Homo sapiens: one gene and its partner. The protein of the gene in region 2 purifies or fractionates together with the protein of the main gene of each other region. This does not show direct contact. Each region holds a gene or a part of one and is shown on either strand. Other genes may lie near its edges.

What was found.
Region 1: the proteins of NOL10 (region 2) and AATF purify together in Homo sapiens (affinity purification with mass spectrometry; 5 studies listed by BioGRID and IntAct, with this or other methods). This does not show direct contact.

Annotation. Positions count from the first base shown.
Region 1 is NC_000017.11:37,049,947-37,056,987, reverse strand, and holds the end of AATF (protein AATF), read right to left. Parts: intron 4,734-7,041; exon of another isoform or gene 3,826-4,733; intron 388-3,825; coding exon 324-387; 3' UTR 117-323; downstream 1-116. UniProt on the Homo sapiens protein: Part of the small subunit (SSU) processome, first precursor of the small eukaryotic ribosomal subunit.
Region 2 is NC_000002.12:10,588,976-10,596,016, forward strand, and holds part of NOL10 (nucleolar protein 10), read right to left. Parts: intron 777-7,041; coding exon 603-776; intron 316-602; coding exon 68-315; intron 1-67.

The sequences.
Region 1 (7,041 bases), on a different chromosome or scaffold from region 2:
GTCTGACATTGTATGAGGAGGCCACTGGACTAGAAAAAAAAAAGCTCAGTAAATGTGTCATCCACTAGAACCAAACCAGACTGACTCTCAGCCTCTTAAGAAATCACAAGCGGTGGTGGCGGTAACAATGCTCTTTATTTGTGGCGTTTAAAGGCGGGGTTGGGCGGGACAGCGCCCTTGCGTGTATTAGGCACAGGTTCGGAACGCAGCATCTTTCCAGGGGCTTCCCTACTAGCTCAGCCCCATAAAGTCACTGGTTTCCTCCATCTGGACCAGCAGCCGCACCAGCCAAGGCGCCCACTGGGTGTCGGAGGTGGGCGATGTCAATCCCCGTGGCCTTCGTCGGGAGGGTGGAGCTGGCCAAAAAGAGAGCGGTACAGTTCTGTCCTAAAAGACAAACACAGCAAACTGGTTAACACACTGGTTCACTATTCAAGGTTAAAAAGGAACGCAGAAGCTGGAAAATACCCCATTCTGTTTCTTCTGTTGAAAACACAGCCATGTAATTAAAAATGCACCCCACAGCTCTTACTCACAAATACAACAGAAGGAAGAAACCCAATCAAACAGTAAAATATGTAAATGGTCCAGTGCGGCTGGACACCCGTCTCCAGGGAATGAGTGTTCTGTAAGTTTGCCCTTTGCAGACAGGCTCTTCAAGTAAGAAAACAAGATTGAATATTTTAATAGGATGTAGGAGACCGCCATCCGATGAGGAGGATTCAATCAGACATGGGATGTAGGGGGATATAATTTAGTTTTCATACATTTTCTTGGACTTGGCAGTACTTGAAAAACAATGAAAATGAGCCAGCAACACGATTCCAATTACTATCATCTGTGCAGTTGTTCAGGAAGAGAACCAAGCTTCTTCCACACTCCCCAGCTGCCCTGTCTCTATTCTCAGTCTAATAAATAATATGATTGGCTAATTTATTTCTAAAGTTGGGTTTTGACATTAAAACAATAACATGCCAGGGTCTTGGGCCCCTAAAAAGAAAAGTAAATGACCACTTTCAAACTCTTTTAAATGCAACATACACACAAACATCGGCCAAAGCCATGTGTCAAGGCCTGGAAAACCTAAAAGGGGTGTGGGTGGGGCAGGGATCTTTCCTATCGTTGAGACAGAAGCTCCAGAACACTTTCCCCTGTGGATACAGAGCAGATCCTCCCTGCAGAGACATGAGGGACCCATGAGGTTCCAAGCAGGCAAGACCCGTGTGAGGACGTCCCTGTCATCAGGGAGGTGGGCGTGTAGCACGTGGCCGCAGAGGCAGCCATCCATGTCCACGCCCTGCAGAAGGCCCAGCCGGTAGCCCTCACAGAGACAGGGCAGGCGCACACAGGGCTGAGGTCATGGGCCAGGAGCCCCAGAAGAAATCTACACCTGCTCGGATATTCTCAAGATGGAACTCAAATTCCAGCCTGCCGTCTTGTTTTAAAAGTGCTCTCATCATCTGAGGGTCAGCATCGGCACATCAGACTTTAAAAGCAAAACCAAAAAACCCCACCTTTCAAACAGCAAGGCTTCAACACAAAAAACTACTGGTCTTTTTTTGAAGTCACCCTACTATAGTTATGGATAGGAATAAAGGTACTACAATTAGGAAATCCAACAAAAGGAATAGAGTATCAAAGCTTTAAAAAAGTCAAAAGAAAAACATCTTAAGGAAGAACTACAGAAGCCACAAATGTAAGCTAGCCTTATCATGTTGGGGACCGCGGGAGGGACAGGCAGTGAAAGTGCAGGCCAGAAAACAACAGGCCTCCAATTTTATTACAGGAATTTTATCCCAAGAATGTGCTGGTGCCTTCACCCTGAACTACCCAGCAGACCCCTAGGCCACAGACAAAGGACACAGCTTCCCCCTTGGCTCCACCCATCTCTTCTGCTCTTCTGTTACACACATCCATGTGACTAGCCTCAATCAGCCCAGACGAAGCCTGCCAAGGTGGACGGCAGCCCCAGACCAAATGCAAACCCACGGCTTCCAAATCAGCAGCTCCGTCACACGGATACTTCGGTGCCCAGGGCAGGCTCCACTTCATCACACCATGGCCTGCCTATTTGCCAGTAAAGACAAGTCTCTCTAGCTGTTTCCACACAAAAAATTAAATGGCGTGAAAGGGAGAGTTGCCATAACAAAAGGACAGTGTGACTTTAGGACAACAACGTCTGATGAGAAAGAAATGCAGAGGCGCGAGGCTAGCCCTTCACATCATACCCTTTCCAGCCTCGCCGCGCTTGCCTGCACCAGACCCCATCATTACCACTGAGCAAATGCTTCCACTCTGCGCGCAATATCAGTGCAACGCCTGGGCCGAAGGCAGCAGTTACTGTCCGCAGCAGGGTTCACGTGTCAGGAGCAGAGAGTGAAATGCTGAAACCCATGTTTTCATAGAACATCATTTCACACTCAGGTGGGCAAAGCTGACAAACATATGCAGCTGTTCATGGCAAAGCAACCTGGGAAGCTGAGTGGTCTGGGTTCTTAAAATATTTTCAGAGAGAGAGAATATCAATAGGGGATTATTTCAATCTAAAAGTCCCCAAGCAATTTCAACTTTTACATCTTCCTCACCCACTATCACCAGCTGGTGACCGTTTTTACCTTCAAAGCATCTCAAACTTCACAGCTCCTCCAGGCTTCCACTAGGTCAGATCTCACCGTTTCTCATGAAGCACACAGCAACAACCTCCTGGCTGACTCTTCCACTCCCTTCTCTGAGACAGACAAAGCAGACCCTCCCTGGGGCCCAGGAGCAGCATGGGGATGAAGATCCCCGCCCCACACGCCCCCCACCAGCCACCCCCACTGTAGATTCCAGCGGTTCAGCTTGGCCTCAGCCCTTCCTCTTTCCAGGTCCTGGCTTTGGCTCCTGCCCTGAGCAGCTGGGTGGTACAGGGAGGCACAGCCCTTCCTCCCTCTTTACTAGGTTGGAGAAGGTAGGGTTGCACATTTTTATAACGTTTTTCACAGTAAGTTTAAATAGTTACAAAATATATAATGACCAGGATGTTGTGAAAATTAACTTTTGTAATGCCTGCAATGGAACCTACATGCCATAATGATTTGATACTCATCGTTCATTCAAGTAACACATAAACTATTTTTTTTTGAGATGGAGTCTCGCTCTGTCGCCAGGCTGGAGTGCAGTGGCGCAATCTCGGCTCACTGCAACCTCCGCCTCCCGGGTTCAATCGATTCTCCTGCCTCAGCCTTCCAAGTAATTGGGACTGCAGGTGCGCACCACCACGCCCGGCTAATTTTTTATTTTTAGTAGAGACGGGGTTTTACCATGTTGGCCAGGATGGTCTCCATCTCTTGACCTCATGATCTGCCCGTCTTGGCCTCCCAAAGTGCTGGGATTACAGGCGTGGGCCACACATAAACTTTTTAACTTGGACATTTTATAGCACCTTTTTCTTTTTAAATTTTATTTCCACCTGACTTTTCCCTACAGAGTTTTGTCCTAATATAATGGTTTCATGCTTGAATGTCTTTTATCAATCACCCTTATCATACTTCTTGGCCACATTAGTCTGTAAATAAAAGCACTTTTGAAATTTTTAAAATTCAAAAAATTGAAATGAAAATATTTTAATTGTTTGACATTATAAGGCTCTAAGTAGTTTAAAAATGTTCCTCTGGATTATTATTAGGATATAATCAATATATAATAATATGATATAATATATCCTAATTTTAGTGAAAATTTAGTATTCATACATGTGTAAAATGTTATTAGAAATGCATCCCTTAATGATATGGATGAGGCTTTTCCCTCCATTTGTTCATGGATCCATGGAGGAATATTATTTATTGCCAGAATGAAGGAGGGTTCAGCATCAATTCTACTCCTATTTTTTTGTTTTTTGTAGACATAAGCACTGAGAAATGTTGTCATATAAACAAGCAGATAGGAATGACAGAGTTCTGGCATAGCAATGCCACTTGATTCTTTTTGCTCTTTCTGAATTATACAGCACACACAAAAAATCGCACAGTGACTCGTCCCCAAACATTAGTCCTAACGGTCAACCAACTGCCAACTCAATTCAACTCGTGTTCTCCAGCGATTCTGCTGGAAGTGAAGACCCAGAAACCACCCGGCCTGCACAGGGCTTGTCCTCTAGTCCTTAGGCGTTTGCTTTCTCAATCTCTGTACCCATATTTCCAGCTGTCCTTGGGTTTGAGGCCCTGGAGGTTTTCCTGTGGCAGCCCGAGGTCCATGTCACTTTAAGGAGGGGCTCGAGGGAGGCTTTTCAAGGCCAGAGAAGGACGAGGGTAAAAGGACAACCTAGCCCTCCAGCACAGGCCTGCTCTGGGGCAGACAGCTTTAGGAAAGAGCGTACGTCTGAAGACTGACTCCTTGACTATCTGTGTCTACCTTCCCCTTGGAAAGTCTCTGCATACCCCAGTGTGAAGACTGAGCCACAGGGTGCACTGAGCTCTTCCTCCCTCAAACCTAGGCAGGTGTCTAGGTGCTTAGGGAAAGGCAAAGACATCTGAAAAGAAACAAAACATGTCCACAGCCCTTACCCCATCCCAAGAAAAACTGCAAGTAAAGACGAGGCTACAAAAAGGTGCCACTGGACAGAGGGCCAGACCGCCTTCCACTGCATAAACATTTCCCCCCGGCTGCATCTTCCTAACTGGGATTTAGCCATGTGGAGAAGCTAAACTATCAATCCTCCAGGTTAACCTTGTTCCATCAGATTCTCCAGGGTAAGTGTGTAGTTTCATACCTGAGGTCCCCTTAAGGCTATGCATAATCAACTTTTTAAAAAAACACATAATTCCTGCTCCCCATCACATTAAGAATCAAGATGCAAATCACTGATCTGTAATACCCCCACCCCCCAGCACACACACACTCATGGTCAGTGGGAGTGTCCACTGTAGACAATGCGTTCATGCTGGTATCATGCAGGGGAGCAGCCTGCGGAGTAATTAACAGGACTTGGACCTGAGGTAGAAGGTCGATAGCAGGGGCTCTTCCTTGAATTAAAATTTAACTTACCCTTTATTGCAAACTACAAAAGCAAGTAATGAGCACTAACATTTTTATTTCTTTTAAACTGTCATTAAGCTGTAGAGGGGATAATTACCTATCTCTAGTGCAGTAAGGTTTTATAACCCTTAGTGAGGCATTTTCTAATTTAATATTTTTACTATATTATCTTAAAACCTGTTTCTAGAAAAAAAAATGATCATGGATTAGCCGCCATTTTCCATAAAGACAGAATGTGCGTGTGTGTGTGTGTGTGTGTGTGTGTGTGTGTCTGTCTGTCTGTCTGTCTGTCTTAGGATTCGGCTTATTTATTATGTGATTCTTCTGAAGAGACTTAAAGTATGCACATTGTAGCTAGCTGTGAACTGCAATCACTTGAGTGGCAGGTAAGGTTTTAAAAGCTCTGAGTGAAATGGGGGTGTATGTGTATGAGAATGCAGCCCCTCACCGATGTGTGGACCCAAATATGTTCCTTTCAGTTCCACATGTGCACTCACCCCACCACAATACAGATCACTGTCTTTCACGATGTCACTTGGGCAAACAGTACAAAGGAGCATATTAAACCTGCAAATAATCTGTGTGGGGCTTTCAATTTGCTAGGTCAGTAGCTTGCAGCACTGGGGATTCTGAAGGAATTGTACCATCCACTCTACAGAAAACCACACTCCTCCTACACTGGCCCTGGAACCCCCAGGCCTCCAAGACATCCCTGAGCTGTACCTACCCACAAAGACAGGTGGACAGCAGAGAGAACACAGCCATTCCACTGCTCCCCGAAAAAGCCTGTGCAGCCTCCCAAAGCGCATCATGGTCTCCGAGCAAGTATTATGTGCCAGTCTTCCAAAGGAGCTGGCGGAGACAATGCTGCTGCTTTCCAGACGAAAAGTGACTCATAGGCCAGGTATGGTGGCTCATGTAATCCCAGCACTTTGGGAGGTTGAGGTGGGAAGACCACTTGAGCCCAGGAGTTTGAGACCAGCCTGAGCAACACAGTGAGACCCTGTCTCTATTAAAAATAAATAAATACATAAAATGATACACATAATTTGCCTTTGACTAATTAAAAATTGTTCATTTGTTGCTTCTTAGGAGTGGGGGGTCTCCCTAAATACATAAGACACATCCCAGAATGTCATGGCCCTTCCTTCCTTTCTAATCCTCTACCTCTCCCACACTGCACACAAAAGTGCTGTAGCATTTGCTTCTGCCTTAACTCAATCCCATACATACATTGCAGAATCAAGGGAAAAGAAGAAAGCACACGGCAGGCAAGTCGGACAAAGGGTTCCAATCATAGCAGCACTCACGGCTAGCAGGGTCTGGATCCGATCTGAAACCCTACAAGTAGAGTCTGCCCAGATATGGTCAGTCAGCACAGAGATTCACACACACGCCTGCTCTGCACAGACCAGCGCGGTCACCAATGACAGATGTGTGCTTTTAAAATTATTGGTGATGTACTGATGCTGCCTTTTTTCACGTTTGTCTTTGAAAACAATTTGCTTAGTGTGGTGGAAGCTTAAACATGTACTAGATGTATATGATTCCTGGCCTCAAAACCTAACATACTACAGGTATAATCAATTAATTAAAAATATTTGAATGCTTATTTGAACTTTGTTAGATTTTGTGGAGGTTCACAAAGACATGAAAGGCACAGCAGAAGCTAGATCGGGAAGGTGAATACATGCAGTAAGTGTGTCTCAGACAAACCACTCCATTTGGGGAGACACACAAACATTCTTCCTCCTGCTGAACCCAATTCTGTCATTTTAGGACTTACAGCCATGGGCTCTTGTCCCTCTAAAGCCAGAGAGAAGTAAGGCTGACTACTATTCCCTGTGGCAGCACTTCAACTATTTGATGTCTTCTTCTAACTAAATCTGTTCTTTTCCGGGTTCAGCGGCCTCAGTTGCCTCCATTCCTCCTGTGACCGAGTCTGCTTGCCATCCTGACTGCACTCCTATGAGCCCTCCATTTGCCAAAGCTCCAAAAGCAAGGTCTCCAGAACCCGCAGCC
Region 2 (7,041 bases):
ATGTGCCAGAGAGGAAAAGCAAGGGCTTGGTTACATGTCAACTGTGCGCTCAGGCAGTGCTACTCACTTCATCAGTTTCTGCTTTGTGGCAGAATCTTTGAAGCTTCTAAATTCTTCTCCTGCTTTGATCTCATAAAACTGGGGCTTTAGGACTGTCTGCTGGTCCTCCTTGAGTCGTTCCTGCCGCTTCACTTTTTCCTCCTGCTGGAGGAGTCTGCGTTGCTTCCTGACCTCTTCAACCCAGGCTTTTTCATCATCTGAACTCTCCGAACTTTCTGCATCACTTGGTTTTCCTTCCGGCTCTTCCTCCTCTTCCTGAGAATAAAAATAGTAAGCAGCAACTCCTTTCCCCCAGTCAAACACAGACCCCTTGGTTTCTCTGAAGCAGCACTGGCCCATTAATGAGTGCCTAACAGCTGCTCTACTGCATGCATCAGGAGAAATGCCTTTAAATAAATAAGATAATACTCCTAAGCCCAATGTCAAACACTTAATATGGAATTAATTACATCTCAAGTATAATCAAAGACTCTTCTAACTTACAAAGAAAACATTACATTAAAGAAACAGTAGCAAATTCTAACTGATAAGGAGTACATTACTTTTTCACGAAGTTCTTGTTGCTCTAAGAGTCTTAGTTTCTTCTTCCTTTTTTCACTAATTTTTGAAACAAGTGGATTCAGAAGCCTAAATTCTTCACTCTCTTCATCTACTTGGAAGTCAGGGTTCTCAAACATAACTTTAAATCGATCATCGGTGAGAATATTAGGAAGACTCTACAAGGAGGAAAAAGTACGTAAAAATTTAAGTTAATATCTGACTAAAATTTGACCAGAAACATGGTTTTAAAACACTGATTCTATTATAAGTTAATAAGCGGCATGAGGCATACATTATTAACTCATTATGAAATTTCTTCCAGGACTTTCAACGTGCCCCTAGGTTTTAGCTGCCACCACCAAAACAACCTCTATTAATCTACTTTGCAGATGCTCTACACCACTTGGCCATTACACACAATGAGCCAAGAATGACCCTTTTGGCTAACTTTATGCTTAACAGATTAGAAAGAATTTCTTCAATTAACATTTTAATGCAAAAAAACACCTTTCAAGAAGATACTAGGTTTTTAAAAAGTGGCTTTTATTATTTTTTAGAGATACGGTCTCACTCCAGGCTGGAGTGCAGTGGCACAATCACAGCTCACTGCAGCCCCAACCTCCTGGGCTCAAGTGATCCTCCCACCTCAGTCAGGCTCCCAAGTAGCTGGGACCACAGGTGCACCACCGCACCCGGCTAATTTTTTATTTTTTGTAGAGATGGGTCTCACTATGTTGCCCAGGATGGTCTTGAATTCTTGGGCTCAAGCAATTTCTCGTGCCTTGGCCTCCCATAGTACTGGGATTACAGGCATGAGCCACTGAAAACAGGGCTTTTAAATAAAGCTTAGTTACTACACTGACTTAAAATAAGCAATTCTTTCAACTTCAGATTCCAAAACTGGGAGAGGAGGTATACAAAGTCAGTAACTCACATGGTGGGATGCAGGAAGCTGGTGATGTCAGTTTACCGATTCCAGCTGAGTTACTGGGAAACAGAAGGGACGTTTCCATCCCCTACAGGGTTGTTTCATCAATATTCCCCCTCAGGTCAACTAATTGTTGTCAAAGGATATTGTGTATCCTTCAGATACAAAAACTTTGGCTACTGAGACCCATTTAGATAGCTCAGGACTGATACTAAATTCCTTTTTATTTGTACCATTTTCAATGGAAAGTTTTCTAAACTGTACTGTAAACTTACCTGTTCACTTAAGTAGATGACAGAGAATCTTACACATTTAGGACTGTCTTATTGTTCCTTCTCTGCTACAGGCTTGGAAGCCAGATGAAACGGCTTACTCAGAATTGTTTGTCAATCAGAGTAAACAGCCCTGAACACTGCTGGAAAAAGCTGACCTGTTTGTGATGGACTCTGACTCTGCTGAACAGACTACTTTACTATTTCTCCACTGTTGAGAGTAAACAAGATTGCAGGCAGTTGAGTTCTGAATATTATTTGTGTGACAGACCTATACAAAAGTTTAGTAAATCATAAGATATTAAGGAACTTGGCCTGTTTATTATTTGTATGTACCTAAAAACAGATAAACCCTTACCTAAAATTCTAAGATATTAAATGCAGCAAGTTTCCCTGATTAAACATCATTTCCAAGAAAGACTTACAACGAAGGGAAAAAGAAAGGTAAGATCGAGTTCCTGATCCTAAACTAGTAAGGAAGAAAAAACACTGCAAACACGTGCTACTAGGCCTCTTCTGAGGGCTGCTCGGTAGTGCTGAAAGTGCCACAGGAGAGGACAGAAAAAGGAATCCCAACAAAAGACACCCCAGGAGGGGCCCTGGGGGGTGCAGCATCAGGGAGGGGGCTTGAAAGATGAGTAGGTTTCAACAAGTAGAAATCTGAAGAAACAGCATTTCCAGCCGATGGGAGTGGTGAATAGTCTGGCGACATAAGAATGATGCAATTTCAAAACAATTTTTTGATTGGGTCATACTGTAAAGGATTTTAAATACCATGACTGTTATTTTGAAGATATAAGGGGAAACCACTAGCGAAGAGGAGGAGGGGGAGGAAGAAGAGGAAGAGAAAAAGGAAGAGAAACGAAGGAGGGAGACAGGGAAGGAGGGAGGAAGGAGAAGATGGATGATCAACAGAAGTGTGCTTCAAGACTCCCAGATGACAGAACTGGCCAGGTGGTGGTTCATGCCTGCAATCTCAGCACTTTGGGAGGCTGAGGTGGGAGGACTGCTTGAGGCCAGAAGTTCAAGACCAGCCTGGGCAACATGGTGAGACGCTGTCTATACAAAATATAAAAAATTAGTCAGGCGTGGTGGTGCATGCCTGTAGTCCCAGCTACTTGGAAGGCTGAGGTAGGAGGATCGCTTGAGCCTGGGAAGTCAGGGCTGCAGTGAGTTGAGATCACACCATGTACTCCAGCCTGCGTAACAGAGAGACCTTGTCACAAACAAACAAACAAACAAACAAACAAACCAACCCAAAATTGTGCTTCAAAAGTCTGCAGCAGCCTGATGTCTGACGGACTGCTGAGTAAGAAGTTAGCATCATGAGAAGACTAAGAAGCCATTTTAAGAAACTGGCAAGAGAGACAGGGCCTGAATTAGGGCAATGGGAACAGACAGTTTTTAAGAAAGAATAATTACGAGATACAGTTCTAAATTAGAATTGACAGATCCAGCTATGGAGATGGGAGGGTTAAGAATTAAAAACAGGGTTAGAAACTTCTCTCAAACATGTAGCTTAAGCAACCAGAAAGCTGGCGACACTGAGTTAGAATCCATCACTGGAGAGCATTAGGAAAAAACGCAGGGGTGGAGTAAAGGGGAAGAAATCACGCTCCATTTAGGGCTGCCTATGCCTGTGGCACAGGGAGAAGAGCACCAGGATTCAGACGGACACCACTAGGTGTCTGGGAACGATGCGCCATGTCTCAGGAGAAGGGAGGGGGCTATGATGTAAATTTTGGAGTTATCTGTAGATATCGGATAGATGATAGTGTGAAAGATAATTTCAAATGAATAACTATGTGCCTATTACACATTTTCAGGTTAAAAAAACCCAAGGGCAAATATTTACTTTTCATCTTACTATATTTATTAAAGTAATAATCATATTTAATAAATAGAGAAAATGTTACAAAGACTACATATGTTGCTGGTATTAAGATTTTTTTCTTAATTTAAAACAAATCAATTGCATTGCCTAAAGACAAGTATGCTTTGGATGAACAACTATAAAATAAAACCTCTTCTGACCCAGCTTGTAAAAATATTTCCCTCAGGGTTTTTTCCTAGTCTGTTTGTTTTCACAGCTGTCTTAAGGAAAAAAGTAGGATAAGGTATAGCTATTAATGTTCTATAGGAGCTTACAAGTGTCTGGCTAGTGATCCGTCCTATAAATACCCGTCTACACATGCTCAACTTTACCATTAAAATATAGAAAACATTAAAGTACTATTCATACCACAGTCCTACCTGGAAGAATGGTATCTGTCTACCTGAGTGGGACGCCTATTATTATTTTGTTCCAACATAGTAACATATATGAAGAATGATTGCCATTTGAAACAAATTAGTTTTTTTTTTTTTCTTTTTTTTCTTTTGAGATGGGGTCTTGCTCTGTCACGCAGGCTGGAGTGCAGTGGTGTGATCTCGGCTCACTGCAACCTCTGCCTCCCGGGTTCAAGCGATTCTCCTGCCTCAGCCTCCTGGAGTAGCTGGGATTACAGGCACGCGCCACCACGGCCGGCTAATTTTTGTGTTTTTAGTAGAGACGGGGTTTCACCAGTTGGTCAGGCTGGTCTCAAACTTCTGACCTGGTGATTCGCCTGCCTCGGCCTTCCAAAGTGCTGGGATTACAGGCGTGAGCCACTGCACCCCGGCCAATCAAATTAGTTCTTTCAATGCTATGATACCTATGAAGTTAGGCTGGTACAGACTTCTGAGTAAAGATGGTGGCTTGAACACTAGTATCTTCTAATCTCTCCTAAAACTTCACTAGAACAACAGAAAAGGAGCTTTATAAAAAGGGCATAAACCCTTAAGAAAAAAAGGAAAGGAAATAGGGGTAATAAAAATTTGGAAGCCAGAAAGAAAGCCTATTTAAAAATCACACCCCAGCTCTGGAAAGCCTGGCCCCAGCCCTTTCCCACGGAGAAGTTGCTTGGCTGAGGCTGGCACTGCAAGAGCAAGAGAGGTGTGCTGGCCACAAGGAGGGGAGGGCAAGGCTGGCACATGGGGGTGAGGTGCCCTCTGGACCCCTCCAACCTCTTGTGACCTACAGTGGTCAGTTCTAGGAATGCTGGTAGCCAGGCCTTTACCCCCCCAAGCAGGAGGACCTGACCAGCCAAGAGAAAGACCTAAGAGACAATGACATGTGCAGTGTCCTTCCCCAAACAGTGTGGCCAAGTCACTGCACACTGACTGAGGGACCCTGTCCCCACCTAGAGTTTTCATTCAGTTTTTTAACTCTCTTATTCCTCACTGCCAAAAAATAACTATGGATCATGGCAGGAAAAACTAATTGAAATTTTCTTTCAAGAAAATTCCCCAGCACTGAAGACCGAACTTCTAGACTGAGATGGGCTTGCAGCACAGTACAGTCGCTTCGTGTCAGGTTTCCCAGGACGCTTCCTCTTCCTGGGCTTACACTGTTATTTTAGAGAAACAACTCCCCTAGCAACTTCCCGAGGAAAAGCAGCATTTAAGGGGAATTGGTTGTTGTTGAGAACTTGCATGTCTGAAAATATCTACCATACCCTCACATTGACTGACTGCTTGCCTAGGTTGGAAACTATATTCCTTCAGGAAACTGAAGGTTCTTGTAATTCTCTGTCCAACATGGGCTGAGGTGAAGTGAATCCCCAGGATAATGGTAAAGGGAGGTCCCGGGATTAGAAGGTGACCAGGCTAGAATGGAATGGGGCAGAAAATTCTAGAAGCAACTTCTTCAGGAAGGTAAATAAGCATAAGTCTAACCTATCTAAACACCTCAAAATAAGACTTAGAGAACTGACATAGAATTGGGTGTTGATTAGTGATAACTACATAGAAAACGAGCAAGAGAGACAATTATTAACTTCAAAGTACACAAAGATTGAACAAGAAATGCAGTCACAGATTACTACTGACTCGGCTGGAAATAGCACTTACGTAGGCCAGGCATGGTGGCTCGTGCCTGTAATCCCAACACTTTGGGAGGCTGAGGTGGGAGGATCTCTTGAGCTCAGGAGTTGGAGACCAGCCCGGACAACACAGTGAGACCTCAGCTCTACTAAAATATATACATACATATATATTAGCTGGGTGTGGTGTGCACCTGTAATCCCAGCTACTTGAGAGGCTGAGGTGAGAGGATCACTTAAGCCCGAGAGACTGAGGCTGCAGTAAGCTATGATTCTGCCACTGTACTCCAGCCTGGGTAACAGGCTCTATCTCAAAAAACAAAAGTACAACAATGTAATGCTGAATACCAACTTAATCAAAATCACAATATAGCTTCCTTGGAAAGGAAAGTTATCAAAAGATAATGCCTAACACTAAAAAGTTAAGAGGTAGGACTACAGGCAAGAGGGAGGGAGGGGGAGGGGGCAGAGAGAGAGAGAGAGAGAGAGAGAGAGAGAGAGATTTATACCAAAATAATCAGCAAAAAAGGCAAAAGTGGTTGTCTGAGAAGAGGTGAAAATGGAGGAAGGCAGAGGGAGGAAAAGGGGCAGACAATGGGATGGCCTACATTCCTAACAAACCTTGGAGAAATGTTTAGGTTTTTTTTGTTTTTGTTTTTGACAGAGTCTCACTCTGTTACTGGGCTGGAGTGCAGTGGCACAACCATGGCTAACTGCGGCCTTGCAGGGAGATCCTCCCACCTCAGCCTCCTGAGTAGCTGGGACCACAGGCATGCACCACTACACCCAGCTAATGTTTTGTAGAGATGCGGTTTCACCATGTTGCCCAGGCTGGTCTTGAACTCCTGGGCTCAAGTGATCCTCCCTGCCTTGGCCTCCCAAAATGATGGGATTACAGAAATGTTTTTTTGTTTTGTTTTGTTTTTGTTTGTTTGTTTGTTTTTTGAGATGGAGTCTTGCTCTGTTGCCCAGGCTAGAGTGCAATGGCGTGATCTTGGCTCACTGCAACCTCTGCCTCCCAGGTTCAAGCAATTCTCCTGCCTCAGCCTCCCAAGTAGCTGGGATTACAGGTACGCACCACCACACCCAACTAGTTTTTCTATTTTTAGTAGAAATGGGGTTTCACTGTGTTGGCCAGAGTGGTCTCAAACTCCTGGCCTCAAGTGATCTGCCTGCCTTGGCCTCCCGAAGTGCTGGGATTACAGGTGTGAGCCCATAATGTTTGTGTTAGGCACTGTGCCCAGACTGAAATGTTTAGTTTTTAAAACTATGCATGTATAACTGTAATTTAAAAAAAACAAAAATTTTAATTGATACTAAAAAAGCTTTAAAAATAATA